Linked DNA regions of Homo sapiens. The protein of the gene in region 1 purifies or fractionates together with the protein of each later gene. This does not show direct contact. Each region holds a gene or a part of one and is shown on either strand. Other genes may lie near its edges.

Evidence for each region.
Region 2: the proteins of ZNF653 (region 1) and PHF8 purify together in Homo sapiens (affinity purification with mass spectrometry; one large-scale study listed by BioGRID and IntAct). This does not show direct contact.
Region 3: the proteins of ZNF653 (region 1) and ZNF708 purify together in Homo sapiens (affinity purification with mass spectrometry; one large-scale study listed by BioGRID and IntAct). This does not show direct contact.
Region 4: the proteins of ZNF653 (region 1) and YTHDC2 purify together in Homo sapiens (affinity purification with mass spectrometry; one large-scale study listed by BioGRID and IntAct). This does not show direct contact.

The regions. Positions count from the first base shown.
Region 1 is NC_000019.10:11,482,037-11,486,929, forward strand, and holds the end of ZNF653 (zinc finger protein 653), read right to left. Parts: intron 4,845-4,893; coding exon 4,733-4,844; intron 3,735-4,732; coding exon 3,620-3,734; intron 2,106-3,619; coding exon 2,006-2,105; intron 1,824-2,005; coding exon 1,646-1,823; 3' UTR 1,393-1,645; downstream 1-1,392. UniProt on the Homo sapiens protein: Transcriptional repressor. May repress NR5A1, PPARG, NR1H3, NR4A2, ESR1 and NR3C1 transcriptional activity.
Region 2 is NC_000023.11:53,935,506-53,939,973, forward strand, and holds the end of PHF8 (histone lysine demethylase PHF8), read right to left. Parts: intron 3,742-4,468; coding exon 3,653-3,741; 3' UTR 2,555-3,652; coding exon of another isoform or gene 2,476-2,554; 3' UTR 1,175-2,475; downstream 1-1,174. UniProt on the Homo sapiens protein: Histone lysine demethylase with selectivity for the di- and monomethyl states that plays a key role cell cycle progression, rDNA transcription and brain development.
Region 3 is NC_000019.10:21,321,943-21,326,410, forward strand, and holds part of ZNF708 (zinc finger protein 708), read right to left. Parts: intron 1-4,468. UniProt on the Homo sapiens protein: May be involved in transcriptional regulation.
Region 4 is NC_000005.10:113,590,194-113,594,661, reverse strand, and holds part of YTHDC2 (3'-5' RNA helicase YTHDC2), read right to left. Parts: intron 3,622-4,468; coding exon 3,418-3,621; intron 2,667-3,417; coding exon 2,484-2,666; intron 1,360-2,483; coding exon 1,279-1,359; 3' UTR 1,272-1,278; exon of another isoform or gene 1,181-1,271; coding exon of another isoform or gene 1,172-1,180; 3' UTR 852-1,171; coding exon of another isoform or gene 744-851; 3' UTR 1-743. UniProt on the Homo sapiens protein: 3'-5' RNA helicase that plays a key role in the male and female germline by promoting transition from mitotic to meiotic divisions in stem cells.

The DNA of each region.
Region 1 (4,893 bases):
TGGAGAGCGGCAGTCCCCACCCAATCCTCGTTCCTGCACGCCCTTTAGGCTCCAGACTGTCAGAGAGCGCCACCAGCGAGGAGAGCCTAATTTGCCCAATCAGGGGCGGCCCTTGAGATAACCAGTTACTGGAAGATGCCCTAGAGATCGAGCCAATGGGAGTGCGCGCACCAGGGGATGCTGCCACGCCTGGAAAGGGCAGGCCAATCGCAGTGGCCCGCGCAATAGGGGCGGTGGCGGTGCAGATCCCCGGGTGGCCCCTCTTGGGCTCGCCGGGGCGACCTGGCTGCGGGCGCTAGGGGCCCCAAGCGATGGTCTGTTCCCCACCCCGTGTTCCTCCCGGTTTCCGTCATCGGAAACTGAGCTAGGAGGGGGGCTGCTCCTGGGCGCGCGGACCCCGCTGCGGTTCCCATGGAAACCTGCCGGCTCCGGCAGTGCGGGGAGAGTGGAGGGGACCTGCCTCGCGGGGGGAGGGAGCTCGCGGGGGCGGCCCCAGCGGCCGGACTCGCTCATCCTTGCCGATTCTTCTGTCCCCGGCTGGGGTAGCCCCCCGGTCCGCAGCAGGAACTGAGGCATAGCTGGGGCCCCGCCTCATCCCCCGAACTGGTGAGGAACCGGCGGGGCCAATCTGCGCGTGGCGCCACAGGGCTCCCCCGGGCACGTGCCTGAGCTCGCGGCTGCGGTCCCCAGGGTCACGTGGCTGCGGCCACCAGGGCCTACGCGCCTCGCACGCCACCTAGCGGCCGCGCCTCGCTCCCCGCCCCTCTCTCTAGCGGCCCGCAGGAGGCGGCGGCCTCAGCATCCTCCTCCGGGAAATGGGGCCAGGGCAGCCGCCGCCAACTCCCCTTCCCCCCGCGGCTTCCTGTTTTAGGAACACGCCGAGCTAGTTCTACCTCGGGGTTTTGGCACTGGTTGTTCCTCTGGCCTGAGAATTTCCTCCCCCAGCTTTCTTCTGGGATAGATCTTTGTCATTCTGGTCTATGCGCAAATGCCACCTCCTCAGAGGCCCTCCCTGACCACCGACCTAAACAGCATCCCCGGAAAACAACGCATCACTCTCTCTTTTGCATGGCGCTTGTCGCTAGCTGCAAATGTTTCTCATTTTAGGGGTTTACTGAACACCTCCCCATCTCATCCCGGAGCTCACTGAGGGTGGGAGATGGGTGCCCCATAAAACAGGAGGAAGTGGAAATTAGGGTCCTGAGTTCCGGGAGATGCCCAGAGACCCCAGACCCCCAAGCCTCACCCCATCCTGTGGGAGCAGGGGCTGTGCGAGGCTGCTGGGCCCAGGGGCATCCCTCGTTCCCTGCCTCGCTTAGGAAGGGATCAAGTAGGCTGGAGACAGAGAGGGGCCTGGCACCCCAAATCATTCAGGCCTAGGGGAAGGGCATCTCCTTTCTCGCTCTTTAATCTCACTCTGCTCTCTTGACACAGTTCCAGCAATGCAGCCCCAGGCACCAGCTCCGAGAAGGATGCGGTGGGGCGGGGTGGGGAACCTGCCCAGGGGGCCCAGCTCTGGGGCGGGGCGGGGGCGCCTCCTTCCGGCCCGCGGTCCGGGCGGCCCTCGCAGCTGTCCAGGCCCCGGCAAGCCCGGGCGTGGTGTCCGAGCGGACGAATAAATAGGGGCGGTCAGTGGTCAGGTGGGTCAGGTGGGCTTGTGATCCGGGTGGCTTTTGAGCGTGTGGAACTTGACGCTGTCCAGCTTCTCGAAGCGCTTCCCGCAGCGATCGCACGTGAAGTTGTACTGCACCTCCGCAGTGTGCTTCTTCATGTGCCAGTTGAGCGACGCGCGCTGCCGGCACTGGTAGCCACAGATCTCGCACCTGCCGGGAGCCCGTGGCGGGACGGGGCGGGGTCAGAGTGGGCGGGGCGGGGCGGGGCCCTACAAGGCCGAGCGCAGGTGGAACCGGGCCCAGACACTGCGTTGGGGCGAAGCCGCCCCTGGGACCTGCTGGGATCCCCTCCCACCCAATCCTCTAGCGGCACGGGGCGGCCTGTCACTCACTGCAGGGGGGTCTCGCCGGTGTGGGTGCGCCGATGTACCTCCAGGTGGTTCTTCCTCTTGAAGGACTTGCCGCAGGTCTCGCAGGTGAATTCACGGACACCTGGGGGCGGTGGGGACCGAGGCTGAGGACGGTGGGCTATGGGGTGTCTCTGATGTGCTGCAGACTCTGATGCTAGAAGGAGCATCAGGCTGTCTCCTTGGATCTCCCAGGACTGCAGGTGCAGGCCGACCAAACCCTACGTCCTTCCCGTGCATTTGCCCACAGACGCCATCAAGCAGAACTGAGATCGAACTTGGGTCCCTGAGAGGCATAGGGTGCACACTACCAAGCCAACATGGGTCTGAATTTGTCTTGTGTGTGTGTATATATATATTTTGCGACGGAGTTTCGCTCTTGTTGCCCAGGCTGGAGTGCAATGGCCCGATCTCGGCTTACCGCAACCACAACCTTGGTCTCGCGGGTTCAAGCGATTCTTCTGCCTCAGCCTCCTGAGTAGCTGGGATTACAGGCATGTGCCACCAACCATGCCCAGCTAATTTTGTATTTTTAGTAGAGACGGGGTTTCTCTATGTTGGTCAGGCTGGTCTCGAACTCCTGACCTCAGGTGATCTGCCCACCTCAGCCTCCCAAAGGGCTGGGATTACCACCACGCCCGGCCTTGTCCCTGATATTTGAACTTTGGGTGATTTCGCAAAATGAAAACAAAAACAAAAACAAAAAAAACTTCTGCCCAGCACGGTGGCTCACACCTATAATCCCAGCACTTAGGGAGGCCAAGGTGGGCAGATCGCCTGAGATCAGGAGTTGGAGACAAGCCTGGCTAACATGGCGAAACCCTGTCCCTACTAAAAAAAAAAAATTAGCTGGCATGGTGGTGAGCGCCTGTAATCCCAGATACTTGGGAGGCTGGGGCAGAAGAATTGCTTGAACCCGGGAGGCAGAGGCTGCAGTGAGCCAAGATCGGATTCCAGCCCGGGCAACAGAGTGAGACTCTGTTGCAAAAAATAACCACACACACATTAAAAAAAACCAAAAAAAACAAAAAAAACCCCCAAACTTCTGACCTCCTGTGATATCAGAAGCTCTGGCCCTCAGGGCATGCCCTATCGCTGGACACAGGCACCATGGCTCTCCACTATGTCCCCAGCCCATGCAGAAGACCTGCATCTCTGCCACAAGTGGAAACAGAAGCCCAGTCCCAAGCCAGCTGCTCCTCTTTGCCCAGCTCTCCTTCCTGCTGCTGCTTGGGTGGGCACTGGTCTAGCCTGTGGCCCCAGGTGCTGCTATAGGTTCCAATCTGGAAGAGCAGTGGCGGTGTCAGCTGCTCCCTAAGTCTCGCATGAGACCTGCTCTTGGGATCATGGGGCATGGGGTCGCGGGGATAGGAGGGAAGATGGCCAGCCCCACCCAATTCCTGTGATTGATTGGTAATAGTTCCTGTCGCTGTGGCTCACATAGCTACAGCTTACTGAGGACAGGGAGGAGGCTCCTAGGGGTGTAGTCCTGTGCCCGGAGACCCAGCACTGGGCTTTGACCCGCCAGCTCTGGCCCAGGCTCCCAGGCCCATGTCCCTGTGTCCCCCGCTCATGCTGCCAGCTGGCCCAGGGCCTGACCTGAATGGATGATCATGTGCCGCCGCAGGTGGTTGGATAAATAGAACTTCTTGCCACAGCCAGGATGAGGGCACACTTTGGTCTTTCCTTTCCGATGCACAAGATTGACGTGGTTCTGGAGACGAGACAGGCAGAAGTGGGTCCCATAGGCCCACAGAAGGGGCTCTGGGAGGTGGGGAGAGATGAGGGCAGCTGGAAGGCAGGCTGGGGCTGGCCTCCCCAGGAGGAGGGAAGAGGGGTACCCTTGCCCAGCTCAGAGATTCCCAGGGGCACAACTGGGGTCAAAGGGTAGCTTTATTTTTTTTATTTTTTGAGATGGAGTCTTGCTCTGTCGCCCAGGCTGGAGTGCAGTGGTGTTCTCTCAGCTCACTGCAAGCTCCACCCCCCCGGGTTCACACCATTCTCCTGCCACAGCCTCCTGAGTAGCTGGGAGTACAGGCGCCCGCCACCACGCCCGGCTGCTATTATTTTTTTCTGTATTTTTTAGTACAGACAGGGTTTCACCGTGTTAACCAGGATGGTCTCGATCTCCTGACCTCGTGATCCGCCCACCTCGGCCTCCCAAAGTGCTGGGATTACAGGTGTGAGCCACCGCACCTGGCCAAGGGCAGCTTTATTGAACACCTACTATATGCCAGGCTCTGGACTGGGGTATCTGTCAACTCTGTGAAGGGCCCAGCTGTTAGCCCAATTAATCGATGGGGAAACTGAGGTTCAAGGCTCTGTGGTTTGGCCAAGGTCTCACAGGTGGCCAGTGGCAGGACTGGGACTGGATTTGAGGGCTATCAGCCTCTGTGGGCCTGGAACAGGCAGCCCCAATTGATTCATTCCTTTGTTCCTTCACTCTTTAACTTACTAGAACAACCCTGGCTCCAGCTTGCAGGCCTGGCTTGCACTAAGTGCTTAATACATGCTCAATCAATGCATGGCATGGCACAAAGGCCTGTTGTTGCATCCTCCCATGCCAGGTCCTGGGGTGTGACAAGTCCCTGTCTTTGCCTTCAGGGACACCTCGTCAAATTTCAAGGGGCAAACTAGAGGTAGGACATCCTGGTGGTGCCATGGCCTGGGCCTTGTGGGCCTGGCCCAGGCTGCTCCGGGTGGCGGCCTCACCTGGAAGCTGCTGAGGGCCACGTAGACTTGGCTGCAGCCCTCGTATGGGCAGTGGAACATCTCGAGCAGGCCGTCAGCATCCATCACCCGCGACCGCTTGCTCCGCCGCCTCCTGGAGGGGAAGGGGCCATGACATCGGGGCTCCCGCACCAGGCAGGCTG
Region 2 (4,468 bases), on another chromosome or scaffold:
TCAAAACCCCACCTACTCCTGAGACAGACTGTGAGAACTGGAGGAGGTCATTTAACCAGTAGGTGCCAAAACCAGACAGCCTCACTCCAGACCCACAGAAGCAGAATCTCCAGGAGGAAGTAAATCTTGACTGGGTTCAAAATACTTTAATAGATGACCCACAGACAGTAAGCAGCCTGCCCTGGCTCACCCACAGAGTCAGGGTGGTGGTGAATTTGAAACTGAGGCTCCCAAGATCACCCTGGGAGCTCTCCTTAGGAGATAACTCTCAATTCTGCATCTTGCACATAACAGAGGCTTAATAAAGATCTGTTGGGTGCTTGAGCCTCAGAAGATTTTCTAATATGGTGAAGGCAAAGAACATAAGTTTTGGAATCAGGCAGATCCTGCTGCAGACCACTGGCAAACTTCAGTCTCCTTAAACTGTTAAATAGGACGAATATCCTCATGGGGTTTTTCAGTGAGGATTAAATGAGATATCCCTAAGTAAAATCCCTAGCCCAATGCCTGGCACCCAAAAGGCACTTAATATAATGGTAGTGTTTATCAGTGAGAAGTGGTAGAACAGAGTGGTAAGAATACACATTCTGGAACCAGGTTGGTCCCAGAATTTTCATGTATGATACAGGAAGGTTACTTTGTTTCTTCGCTGGCAGGATGAGGGTGTTGGTGAGGATGAAATGAATCAATAAAGTATTAAGAGCAGTGCCTGGCACAAGAAAACAAGTGCGATAATCGTGAAAACAAGCTCTGATAATTATATTCTTCTAACCCATGTACTGGCCCTAAGCACAGTAATCAAGTCCAGATTGCACAACAAGTGCATGGAAGAGAGAGGGAAAGAAAAAAAAAATCCCACATTCACAGAAAGAGGACACACTTGAAAAAGCAGTCTCTGGAAAGCCCTCCCATTGAACTTGTTAGGCCCCTTTGAATTATTGCACCCTTTCTTTTCTGCTCAGTCTGCTTCTGATGATCTACTTCAGGTGTGTGAAGCGTGTCCCTCCTGAGGGTGGGAATACCCTTCCCACTTCAAGCATAAGGCTGAGCACCAGGGAAATGCCTGACAACTTGCTGAGGGAGAGACAAAGAGTACAAGGAGAAGGCAGCACTCCCAGACCCTGCACCACACCACCACCCTCATCACAAAAAAAAAGAATGCCAAGCAAAGCAATTGCCAAGATAAATCACTTTTATCTCTATAGGAAAGGGAGGATCTAAAAAAAATATAAATTACATTAGTAACACAACATAAGAAAAAGACAGGGACAAAAACAACAGAGAAGTCTGAATGATGCTACCCTAACCTATTTATAAAAAGGCCCTGCATCAGAAATTCACAATCCTACCCACTTCTAAAAATATATTTAGACATGTACAGAAGCGGTGGGCTTGTTTTTAAATTGTTTGCTTTTTTTGTAAAAATATATTAAAGGTGAATAGAAATCCTCTCTCCCTTCCCCCTGTCCAGCCCCCAGCTAGGGACTGGAGATCAGGGGTAACTATCTCATGGTGTTCTAAACCTTGATTACTAACACTCCCAACCCCTCCCCAACTCACTTCACTTAGAACCTGAAACATTAAAAAAAACAAAAACAAAGACATCAGCCTCTTTGGAAAAGCATAACTCTGAGGGTAAACTTGCTTTTCATTGGAAACAACACAAAACAACAAACAGGGGGCTCTAAGAACCCAACTAAGCTAAATGAAACCCAGTCAAACAGAGGCTGGGTTTCAGCTCCACAGAAAACTTCTAACAAAGAAATAGAGGGAAAAGGCCGGAATCGGGGGGATTTGCTAGCAATTAGCTGCCTTTGAAAGATCAAGAAGGGGTGTTAATGGACAAAAGGGCTGGGGACCTGATCTTGGTTACAGCAGTCACCGCATAGTCAGGCAGTTGCCTATACAGGACAGAGGCTTCTCCTGCTCTCCCCTCACTACCCTCTGCTGCCTTGAAATCCCCAAAATAAGCAAAGCTGGGCAGAAACAGAGGGGAGGGGAGTAGGGACTCACGTGCTAGGGGGGAGGTAGCCAGGCTTTTTGCCTTTGGTGTGACTAGATGGAGAACTGCTTGGCCCCTGGGGTCCCCAAGGTAGAGAAAGCAAATGGGCTAAAGGAACCCCTGATTCCAAGGAAGGAAAGTAGAGGCAGGGCTATGGAGAAAAGAAAGACAAACTGGAGATACAAAGATGACAAAAGAAGCCTCACAAATTCCCTGTGGCCTGCATGGTAGCTATTAAATTCCCCAGAAGCATTGGGCAAGCTGGGGTGAGGTTGGAGTGGGTGGTACAGGTGGAAAGGGCAAGGGTACACTCCACTTGGGTAGTGCCAAATGGAGGTGGGGGGATGTTCTCCATCGAGTCCAGATTGCCAGTGAGGCAAGGCGGTGGGAGGTGGGGGCACTGTCTGGACAATGGAGACAATCCACGAAGGAAGGACAGGGGAAGGGGAGGATCGGATGGATGGTCTGCTCCTTCACGGATGGGCGTCTCTTCTCTTCAACTTGGGCTCGTGAATGGCCTGTCTGCATTCTGCTTGAACGATGACCTGTCGTCTGGAAGTGCAAAGGCCCAGGAGTGAAGATGTGAGTCCTGAGGTCTTCTTCAGACCAAGACCTCAGGTGGAGAAAGAAGCATGAAAAGTTCCCGATGGAGGACCCAGGTGTGGGCCGTCCCGCCACACCCTCCATAATGTCCAGGCTGTGCTCTGTGGTATAGGCGGAGCAAGCAGGCTGTAGGGCCAGGGTTATCTGCGTCATTGGCAGGTGCTTTCAGGTTTCTGGGAGATGGTTTTCCACCTGCCAGGGCCCAGCCACAGCCACAGCCACAGCCACGTGGATAATGTTCTACATGATTTCAAAATCCAGGCAAATCCCTGGAGCTCACCCTAAAACAAGTGGCCTCATGTGTAGCCAGCTAAAAGTAGCTTCCTCCAACAGGCTACAAAACCGTGGTCAAAGGCTTGGGCATCTGACCTCTCCCTACCTTGACAAGTGATAGGAATCACCTTTCTTTTGAAAGGTAAGTGAAGTTGGCATTTCTAGGCCACTTCTGGAAATGGCCCACAGTGGGGCAGGAAGGAGGCTCTAGGCCTTCCTCTTCATTTCCATGAAGCATTTGGCAAGAGGGGGCAGAGACCACAGCCTTCTCCCATGAGCAAGTCTGGAGGTGGGGCATGTCCACTGGACTGGGGAAATGGGGCAAACAGAATGGGTGGAGGTGGGCAGGCTTCTGGATATAGGGCTAGAGTTGCAGAAAGTGTCAAGCACTGGGCTTCCCACTTCATGGCTCAGGCTCCTTCATACCTCTCCTCATCCTGCCTTCCAGCTCTAGCGGGGGATGAAGAATAAAGAACAGACAAGGCAGGTGACGGGAGTGGTTTGGACGAGTAGAAAAGAGGGTTCTAGTCAGCTGGAAACCTCTCCCATTTACCTGCTCCTCAGTGGAGAAGGCAGGCAGGATGCTCTAGTGAAAGTGGGGAAGGGAACTAGAAGGAGTCGGTGGAGGGGTCCGTGCCTTTGGTAAGTCCCAAGAAAGCAGGACAATGCACCTCAGCACCTTGTCCAGGGCAGATAGGATCCAGGAGTGCCCCAAGAGTTGACAATGGAGAAGGCAATGGGGGTAAAGGGGTGAGGGGTGGGACACAGGAGGGCTCACAGAAGTAGTTTGCCATTTCTGTGGATTTTCAGGATACGGCCGAGTCTCTGCTTTGCTGTGGCCAGGCCCTTTTTGGGACGCTTTCCTGTGGGGGAAGGGAAAAGTAAGCAAGGGCTTTGGCAAGGGCTTCAACATCAAATCTGGCACCAACTGCCCTCAGGCCACCTCCCCTTCCTGTTTCTCTACCCACAAAGTTTCTCCATCCTTAGACCATATTGGGCAGGAAGCCCTCCTTAACTACTTCCAACCAACACCACATGCTTTGACTCTTCCTCCTATGACCTCCTGTAGCAGCAAGACTCCCTGATTACAGTTTGTCTAGTTCTTTTTCTCCACTGATTACTCTGGTCCCAATCATTTTCCTTCCAAGATCCTGCAGGGAGGTAAATGTACTTCCATACCCTCTTATCCTACCCACCAGGACTGGACAAGTGCCTGGTTAGTGATTAGAGCTCAGTGTCCCTGAAGTTGCCATCCCTAGGGCCTTGCTTCATTAGAAACTCTCATCTTCATCAGCCTTCAACATCACACCAACCTCCATGCCCTTGAGCTGCGTACTCTAGGGACTGGGCTTTGAGGACCAAAGTGAGGGAAAGGAAGGCTTCAGTCCTCTAACTCTTTGTTGTCTCTGTCTCCCCACATTAAATCCCCTCCCATGTCCTATTTGACTGCCTCCATATTTGATCAGTTCATCTCCTTCCTCTCCATTCCCTCTGGCAGAGCCCCAGGTACTCTTCCTGCCTGCCTGAACTTGTATATGTGCCTCCTCCCTAGAGTTCCCATCTCTAGCCCACCCTCTACCTCCTTCTGGC
Region 3 (4,468 bases), 9.8 Mb from region 1:
TTGTGCCTGGGTGGGGCTGTACTCTAATTTATTTCTCTGTTCATACAGGCAGGTGAGATTATGAACAGGTGGTCCAGAACCCTAGGTTGGTGGAGAAAACAGGTTGCTGGTGCAGATTCAGTGTCTGGGGGTGCGGATATGCCAGGAGACTTGTAGACATGTTTGTGAGTTTGTAGCAAGAAACACCAGGATCAAAAATGCTGTGGTAAAATTCCTGAGGGTGGTGCCTAGTCCTGGGAATAAGTGTGGACACGTCAATGTCTAATGGGTATGTTTGTGAGTGGCTGGGAATCCTGTGGTGGCAGCTGTGGGAAAAGGGGGTCTGTCATCAGAGCTCATATTCTTTTTTTTTCTTTCTTTCCTTTTTTTTTTCTTTTGAGACAGAGTCTAGTTCTGTCACCCAGGCTGGAGTGCAGTGGCGCAATCTTGGCTCATTGCAACCTCTGCCTCCCGGGTTCAAGTGATTCTCCTTCCTCAGCCTCCTGAATAGCTGAGATTACAAGAACGCACCACCATGCCCAGCTTATTTTTTCTATCTGTAGTAGGGACGGGGTTTTGCCACGTTGCCCAGGCTGGTCTTGAACTCCTGAGCTCAGGCAATCCACCCGCCTCGGCCTCCCAAAGTGCTAGGATTACAGGCGTGAGCCACGGCACCCGGCCAGAGCTCCTATTCTCTAATTTTTCAGTCCTCTCTCACCCTGGGAGAACTGAAATCACAGGACAATGGGCAGTGTGACAGCCTGTGTACAGGAGAGCAGAGCGTCCCATTCCCAGACATCCAGAGTTTTATTCCAGGTCAGGCCCCCGTATCTTTTTTCTGGCACCAAATCTGCAGTTTACTGAAAACCAAGCAATTCTCTAACACTAACTCATTGTCTAACATTTTATTTCTGACACCACCCAGTGTCAGCACAGGCCCTGACTCAGTCCCACACTGTCCTTACGGCAGATGCCAGGCACAAACTCCATGGGCCCATTTACATTTCTGAGCTACTGTTTAAAAATTGAGGACTCCCATAACCTTTTTCAAGTTCAATAATTTGATAAAGCTACTCATAGAACTCAGCAAATACTGTAGTTATATTTACCAGTTTATTATAAAAGATACAACCCAGGAAAAGTCAAATGGCAGACATGTATAGAACAAAGAAAGGTGGGGAAAGATGACACACATAGACAATCCAGATAAATAACTGTGATTAATAAAATTCTTCATTGTTTGTGTTCTCCAGGAACAGTTTATCGAAAGAAACACCCTTCCCATTATGACTTAGATGGTGCTCTCTTTTCTTATCTATCACATAGCAGACACCGACTCTGCACATTTTTTTTCTTATTGAAAAATCAGTTGAATTTGACTTCAGTGGTGAAAATAAAATACTTCTTAAGGAAACTTTACTTAAGTTTGTCTTTTTCCCCAAGGCTTCTGAACTTTACAAACCCATTTTATGTAACTCCAAAGAACAGGCTGACTTCAGTGTGAAACATTCTCTGATCTAAAATCTGATTTTTTCACCCTGCATTTGCCATTCCCCTTCCACCTCCTTTCTAATCTTGTTTGTTCCTCCTTAGGAAAGGAAGCCTTTGTCTGCCTGAACTTTGCAATTCTTAAAGACCTTGTAGTTGGTACTTCTGTTGCAATATTTCTTTGGAAGTCAAAATTTTTATGTAAATTCAACCTTGTTTTATTTTCAAAGTCTATAAACTGCCTCAAAACAAGAACAACTTCATCTTCAGTAAGACCCTCCCAATCCCCTTTCATTTTAACATCAACTGCATCCACCTGTGGGTCCCCAGCTTTCCAGGGCTCTGTAGCTTCTCCCAGGATAAAGACTTCTATGGCTGGGGTGAGCAGGCTGGGATATCTACAGAGGAGACTCCCCAGAAAAAACTAACTGGGCCTTTAATAAAATTTTTTTGCAGGCTCAATATTAGCCTTAGCTCTGAGCCAGTGGGCTAAAGCTTTAATTTCCATGTCAAGAGTTATTCACTTGGTCTTTGAAACTTAAGTGTTTAGCCGGGCGCAGTGGCTCACGCCTGTAATCCCAACACTTTGGGAGGCTGAGGCGGGTGGATCACAAGGTCAGGAGATCAAGACCATCCTGGCTAACATGGTGAAACGTTGTCTCTACTAAAAATACAAAAAAAAAAATTAGTCGGGCGTGGTGGCGGGCACTTGTAGTCCCTGCTACTGGGTAGGCTGAGGCAGGAGAATGGTGTGAACCCGGGAGGTGGACCTTGCAGTGAGCTGAGATCGCGCCACTGCACTCCAGCCTGGCTACAGAGCAAGACTCCGTCTCAAAAAAAAATAAACTTAAGTGTTTAAAAAATCCAGCGTTTCTTGGCTGGGCGCAGTGGCTTACGCCTGTAATCCCAGCACTTTGGGAGGCCGAGGCGGGCAGATCACCTGAGGTCAGGAGTTTGAGACCAGCCTGACCAACATGCAGAAACCCCGTCTCTACTAAAAATACAAAATTAACCAGGTGTGGTGGTGCATGCCTGTAATCCCAGCTACTCAAGAGACTGAGGCAGGAGAATAGTTTGAACCCAGGAGGCGGAAGCTGCAGTAAGCCGAGATCATGACATTGCACTCCAGCCTGGGCAATAAGAGAGAAATTCCATTTCAAAAAATAAAAAAAAAATCCAGCAGTTTCTCAAACACAGTGTTGACATAAGAGAAGAAAATTTTAGGGTGCTTATATTTCATATCTCAATAAGAAAAGCAAAAGTGTCCATTCCTTTCAAACAATAAATGCATTATTTTATTATTTCCATTAAAAGTCATATAGTAAACAATTAGTCATATGGAAACATGTCTAGGAGGTACCAAGTTTCAAATAAAATTTAGCTTAAAACTAGGAAATCAAGATAACAGGATTTGAACAGAGATATTCACTGTCACAAATTTACCCTGCAAAAAGAGGAGCTGATGCTTTCATGAATCTATGTAACTCAGCAATTATCTACCACATTTTCTTGTGAAAATGTACTCATTTTCTACAGCCAAAATGGGAAAGACATTTCCCCTATTCTTTTTCTTGGTAGCATTCTTAAACAGCCTTGAAATTTTATTGGAAATTACCAAGCCATAAAAAATACACCTGACACTGATGAAAGAAATCATAGATGGCACAAACAAATGGAAACAAATCCCACGCTCATGGATAAGTAGAATCAATATTGTGAAAATGACCATACTGCCAAAAGCAATCTACAAATTCAGTGCAATCCTTATCAAAATACCACCATAATTCTTCACAGAATTAAAAAAAATTCTAAAATTCATGTGGAACAAAAAAGAGCCTGCGTAGCCAAAACAAGGCTAAGCAAAAAGAACAAATCTGGAGGCATAACATTACCTGATTTCAAACTACACTATAAGGCCATAGTCACCAAAACAGCATGTTACTGGTTTAAAAATAGGCACATAGACCAATGGAACAGAATAGAGAACCCAGAAATAAACCCAAATACTTACAGCCAACTGATCTTCAGCAAAGCAAACAAAAACATAAAGTGGGGAAAGGACACCCTTTTCTACAAATGGTACTGGGATAATTGGCTAGCCATATGTAGGAGAATGAAACTGGATCCTCATCTCTCATCTTATACAAAAATCAACTCAAGATGGATTAAGGACTTAAACCTAAGATCGGAAACTATAAAAATTATAAAACATAACATTGGAAAAACCCTTCTAGACATTAGATTAGGCAAGGATTTCATGACCAAGAACTCAAAAGCAAATGCAATAAAAACAAAGATAAATATCAGGGACCTAATTAAATTAAATAGTTTTTACACGGCAAAAAGAACAGTCAGCAGAGTAAACAGACAACACATAGAGTGAGAAAAAATCTTCACAATCTATACGTCTGACAAAGGACTAATATCTAGAGTCTACAACAAACCCAAACAAATCAGTACAAAACAAACAATCCCATCAAAAAGTGGACTAAGGATATGAATAAACAATTCTCAAAAGAAGGTATACAAATGGCCAACAAACATATGAAAAAATCCTCAACATCACTAATGATCAGGGAAATGCAAATCAAAACCACAATGCGATACCACCTTACTCCTGCAAGAATGGCCATGATCAAAAAATCAAGAAACAGTAGATGTTGGCATGGACGTGGTGAACAGGGAACACTTCTACATTGCTGGTGGGAATGTAAACTAGAAAAGCCACTATGGAAAACACTGTGGAGATTCCTTAAAGAACTAAAAGTAGGATTACCATTTGATCCAGCAATCCCACAATTGGGTATCTACCCAGAGGAAAAGAAGTCATTATTCGAAAAATATACTTGCACACGCATGTTCATAGTGGCACATTTCACAATAGCAAAATCATGGAACCAACCCAAATCCTCATCAATCAATGAATGGATAAAGAAACTGTGGTATATATATACAATGGAATACTACACAGCCATAAAAAATGAATTAACAGCATTTGCAG
Region 4 (4,468 bases), on another chromosome or scaffold:
CCTGTTGCTCTATTTTCCCTTCAAAAAGTCTCTAAGGAAATTTTATAAACAGTGGTGGTAAAAAGATAATTCTGAGATGGCAAAGAAATATGAGACTTGGCACAAGCACGGATTTACAAAAAAAAAATTATCCCCCATTTATTAAACCATATATGCGAAAAAGGAAAATCATATCTGAAAACATAAGCCAGTGAAAACATACTGAAAAAAAATGGAAGGCGGCACTTAGAATTGTGGCGCTTGCAGGCTTTAGTTTGGAAGACGCACAGCAAGCAAGCTACCAGTTGAGAATTTTTAAAAACTTGTATGAACTTGTTTAAATTTTGAACTTGTTTCAATCAAGTTGTAGCCAAAACAAAAAGGTCATAATTACTGTGCTCATATAAGAGATGTGACGAGGGAAGGAGGGAGGGAGAAATGCAGGAAAGGAGCGGGGAGAGGAGGAAGGGAGGAAGAGAGGGAGGAAAGAGTAAGGTACACATCAGGTTAAAAGGGGCAGAATTAGGAATAAAACTAAGCACTTAATCTAATCTGATCAGGAAGAAACTTTGCCCTTTATTCAGATTTTATTGCATTTCATAATCACAGAAAAAGAACATCCAACTTTATTCTTAAATGTGTCTCAAGTTAAAAATGGCAGAATGAATAGCCCTTAGTTAGCACACACTATTTTTAAAAGGGACACTTGTAGAATTTCACTGGTTTTTTGTTGTTGTCCTTGTTGTTGTTTTCCCCGCTTCTTTTCATAGGTGTTGACGTATTTGTTTTCTAATGATAATCTTAAGAGTTGACTCTTCTAAAATGGTGCTCAGATGTTCTGATATATTCAGGCCTTTCTTAAACAACTTACTCTGCATTAAAAAGTCATCAATAAGAACTGTAATTCAGTGTTTTTAAAAATGAAATGTTTAACTTCAAATTGTTTGTTTAAAATAAACTGCTATTGTGCCAAATAATGAAACTACTATTTTATTCATTACAAACATCATATAATCATTCTCTATAATCACTATAAAAATTTAAATGCTTCCTTTCTCCTGTATATGAAGATGGTAGTTCTAAAGCAACACTCTAAAAGTGTTAAAAAGCCCATTCGTAACACACACCCCACCTCAGTTTTTGAAAGTCAGTGCATTCAGTGGTTATAAATAGGCATGATGTTCTTCCACAGCTAAGAGTTCTAGAAGAAAGGGGAAAAAAAAAGATAAATAATCTGAAAGGTTCCTAATGATCACAAATACTGCCAATACTCAAAGTCAAGATGGTATAACCTGAGTGTCAATCAGTTGTGTTTTTTTCTCCCAAGGGAAGACGTTCCCATAACTGGAGCAACTGTTCACCAACCAGAGGTTCTAGTTCCTAGATAAATCAGAAGTCAAAATAAACATAAAAAGAACTGGAGTGAAAATTTTTAATGACCAAAACCTACACTGATAAAAATGTAAGAAAATCACTTTAAATTTCATTTTCCTACCAGCGTATGCTAAAATCATCTGGTATGAATTGTTCTAATTCTTTGCTTTAAGGTTTATGGAGTTGACTTCCAGATTTAAGATTACAGTTAATCTGCAAAATCTCTCAACTTTTGTGACAAAATGGCAACAGATTCCCATGGAGTCCTGGAACTGTTTCTACCTAAAAATAATGGATTTTGTTTTTCATAGAGATTCAGCAAAAGCACTCAGCTGGAACTTCCAAAGGTTTACTGTGAAACCTAGCATATTCGATGTTGGGTTTTTTTCCAAGGAACTCTCTTAAGCAACTATATCTTCTTATCTTGAAAATTATTAAAATATTTTTTCTTCTAAGATTTCTAGCTAACATATTTCTTCAAAATCATTATTATAGAATAAAAATGAAATTATTCTCACACAATTGAAAAGAATCCCACTTCATAGTACTCCTGTGGAATGATAACCTATGATAAGCACTTAAGAAGAACCCAAACACTTTTTACATGGTGATTTGAAACGAGTCATACTGGTTCAGATAAATTATTAGCTGTGTGACCTTAGGCAAAACTAATCTTTGAGTCTATTTTCTCCTATATAAAATTGGACTAATAATTTAATCATAAGAAATAAATTATATCTTCTAAAGCAGCTAGCATAGTATTTGGTCAATATACATTAATTTCCATCATCTTAACTAGCTTAAAATGCATGTAAATAGCATCATGAAGACAAAGCAAAACACAATAGAAATAAACAAGCCACTAGAATATAAAAAGGTTATTTACTTTACATAATTAAAGCCAAAGAGAAGTTAAATACTATTGTCATCTTGAGACTCTGACTGCAAGGAGCAATCAGACACATTTACAAGTAGGTTTTTACTATCTTTTTACAAACCTGAACCCCTGTTTCCCATGTGCATATGGAATATAAAATTTGTACTCTTACATTTTCTCCTCAATTAAAGCACTGGATAACAGAAAACAAACAGAAACAAAAGTAAATAAAAAAAAAAATGCCATTGTATACCTGCCCATCCCTGCTTATCTGCACTTTCTTGTTGTCATTCCATGGATTGAGTAAATGGTGTGCAAATTGAAAGGGAAGGCTTTCTTTTCGTATCCACTCCACCTTAAATACTCCTCCTAGTCCAGCAGAGCCCCAGTCCTGACTCTTTTCCCTTCCAATCTCAGAAGACATCCTAGAAAATCCCTGTAGGTAAAATGGGAGGAAGGAATAGAGGTGAGGAGGAGATTAGCATGTCTAAATTTAATTTATCTGAGAAGGCTGAGTTTTTAAAATTTTAAGATTAAGATATAATATTGAAATAACAGATACCTAACAAAAACAAAAAATAAGCTACTAAATTTTTCATTAAAAGCTCTCTTAGCAAATTTTAGAAAAAAACAGTTCTAGCCTCCTAACAATTTCAAATATCAATAATGATTTCTAAATAAAATAGCAAAGTCCATATTTTTATTCCATGATAAATGGATACAAGCTAACCTCTAAGCTTTCATTTCCAAAAATTATAATAAACATCAAATAATAAATGTATTATTTTATAAATTCAGGTATACATTAAGTCAAGATGGGTGATGGGTTAAGAAACATACTTAGTTTACTGATTGTCAATACTAACTTCCTTGGCCTATTTAAATAAATATTTTACCAAAAGGTCAAGCTTCTCATTACTTTGAATCCACTTGAGAATTAGTAAATCTAAAGTTGTCTTCAGAAGGAAACATAGTTTACCTGGAAAGACTCTGGTAAGACAAGGCAAAAACAAAGAGGATTCCAGTTCTATCATCCTCTAAAGAGATGCAATATATCCCTTATTCTCAGTCAAGCAAAAGGCATTCTTGCATTCTGATGCAATGAAAAGCCAGTTGTTTTTCTAAAAATCTCTATGATTTAACCTATAGCCAGAACAACCCCATTTTACTGATTCAGGGTGGCTCACCTGGAAATGTCCAGATCCTTGAACAGAAAATACCAAGTAAACTATGCTGCTTTCCCAAAAGGCTCGATTTAGCTTCCGTTCATTACTAGGAGTTGTAGACCAGATACCCTTCTGTTGAGAAATTTCAAGGTTTCTCAAATTGCTACTCTTCATTATGAAGTATCGAACAGGCATGTTTGGTCTTGGCGAAGGAGATTTTGAGCCCTATAAAAGAAAACATAAGTTCTTGAAAGGTAACCTGACCTTTCAAAACCAAGAGGCTCCATTAAATAACATCTTCATAAACATATAAGCCAAAATATTTTATCATATATTCAACAAATGCAAATAGCTCTATCATGTCTGAAACCTACACAAGACTCAACCAAAATAAAGTTAGCCAAAAACAAGTACTCATTTTCAGAGCATTCAAAATCCCTTATCAACAAAGGCTCCTGGAGTACCAACTTTGGTTTATACCTCAAATATACTTTCAGAAATTGTTTTAATAAACTTTCAAAATCAGAAAACAAAACAAATACTTCTCCAGCTTACTGCCTGGAGGCAGTTTTCAGAGGACAAAGAAAAACAGAGTCCAGTGGTCTCATTAAGTTGTGCAGAAAGACACTGGAGTTCAGAGACCGAAGTGGCTACTGTGCATGGCAATGTACTATCTTAGACAGAAAGGAGCTGCACATAAAGAGAGCTCCAAAGGAAACACAGAGGGGTTCCCACAAGTTTTTGGCTAAGTGCTGACCTGAACATGAGTGAGAAAAAAGATAAATAACCCAAGGCTAGGGAAAGATCCAAAGGAAAACAAGTAGACCAAACAATTCCTAGAGCTCACTCATGGCTGGGAATATTTCGTGTTATCTTCAGCCAGAACAGATAGAACCTGTAATATATATGGTACTGGCCCACAGAAGGGCCATACCTTAGTATTGGAACTAAATTAATAACAGAATAAAGACTGCTCTGGCCCATTCCTAACATTACTTAAAAGCAAACTTCAAAAGGATTCAACTGATTGCAACTAAACTGTGCATCACAACAAAGTCTAACGCTATTGAAA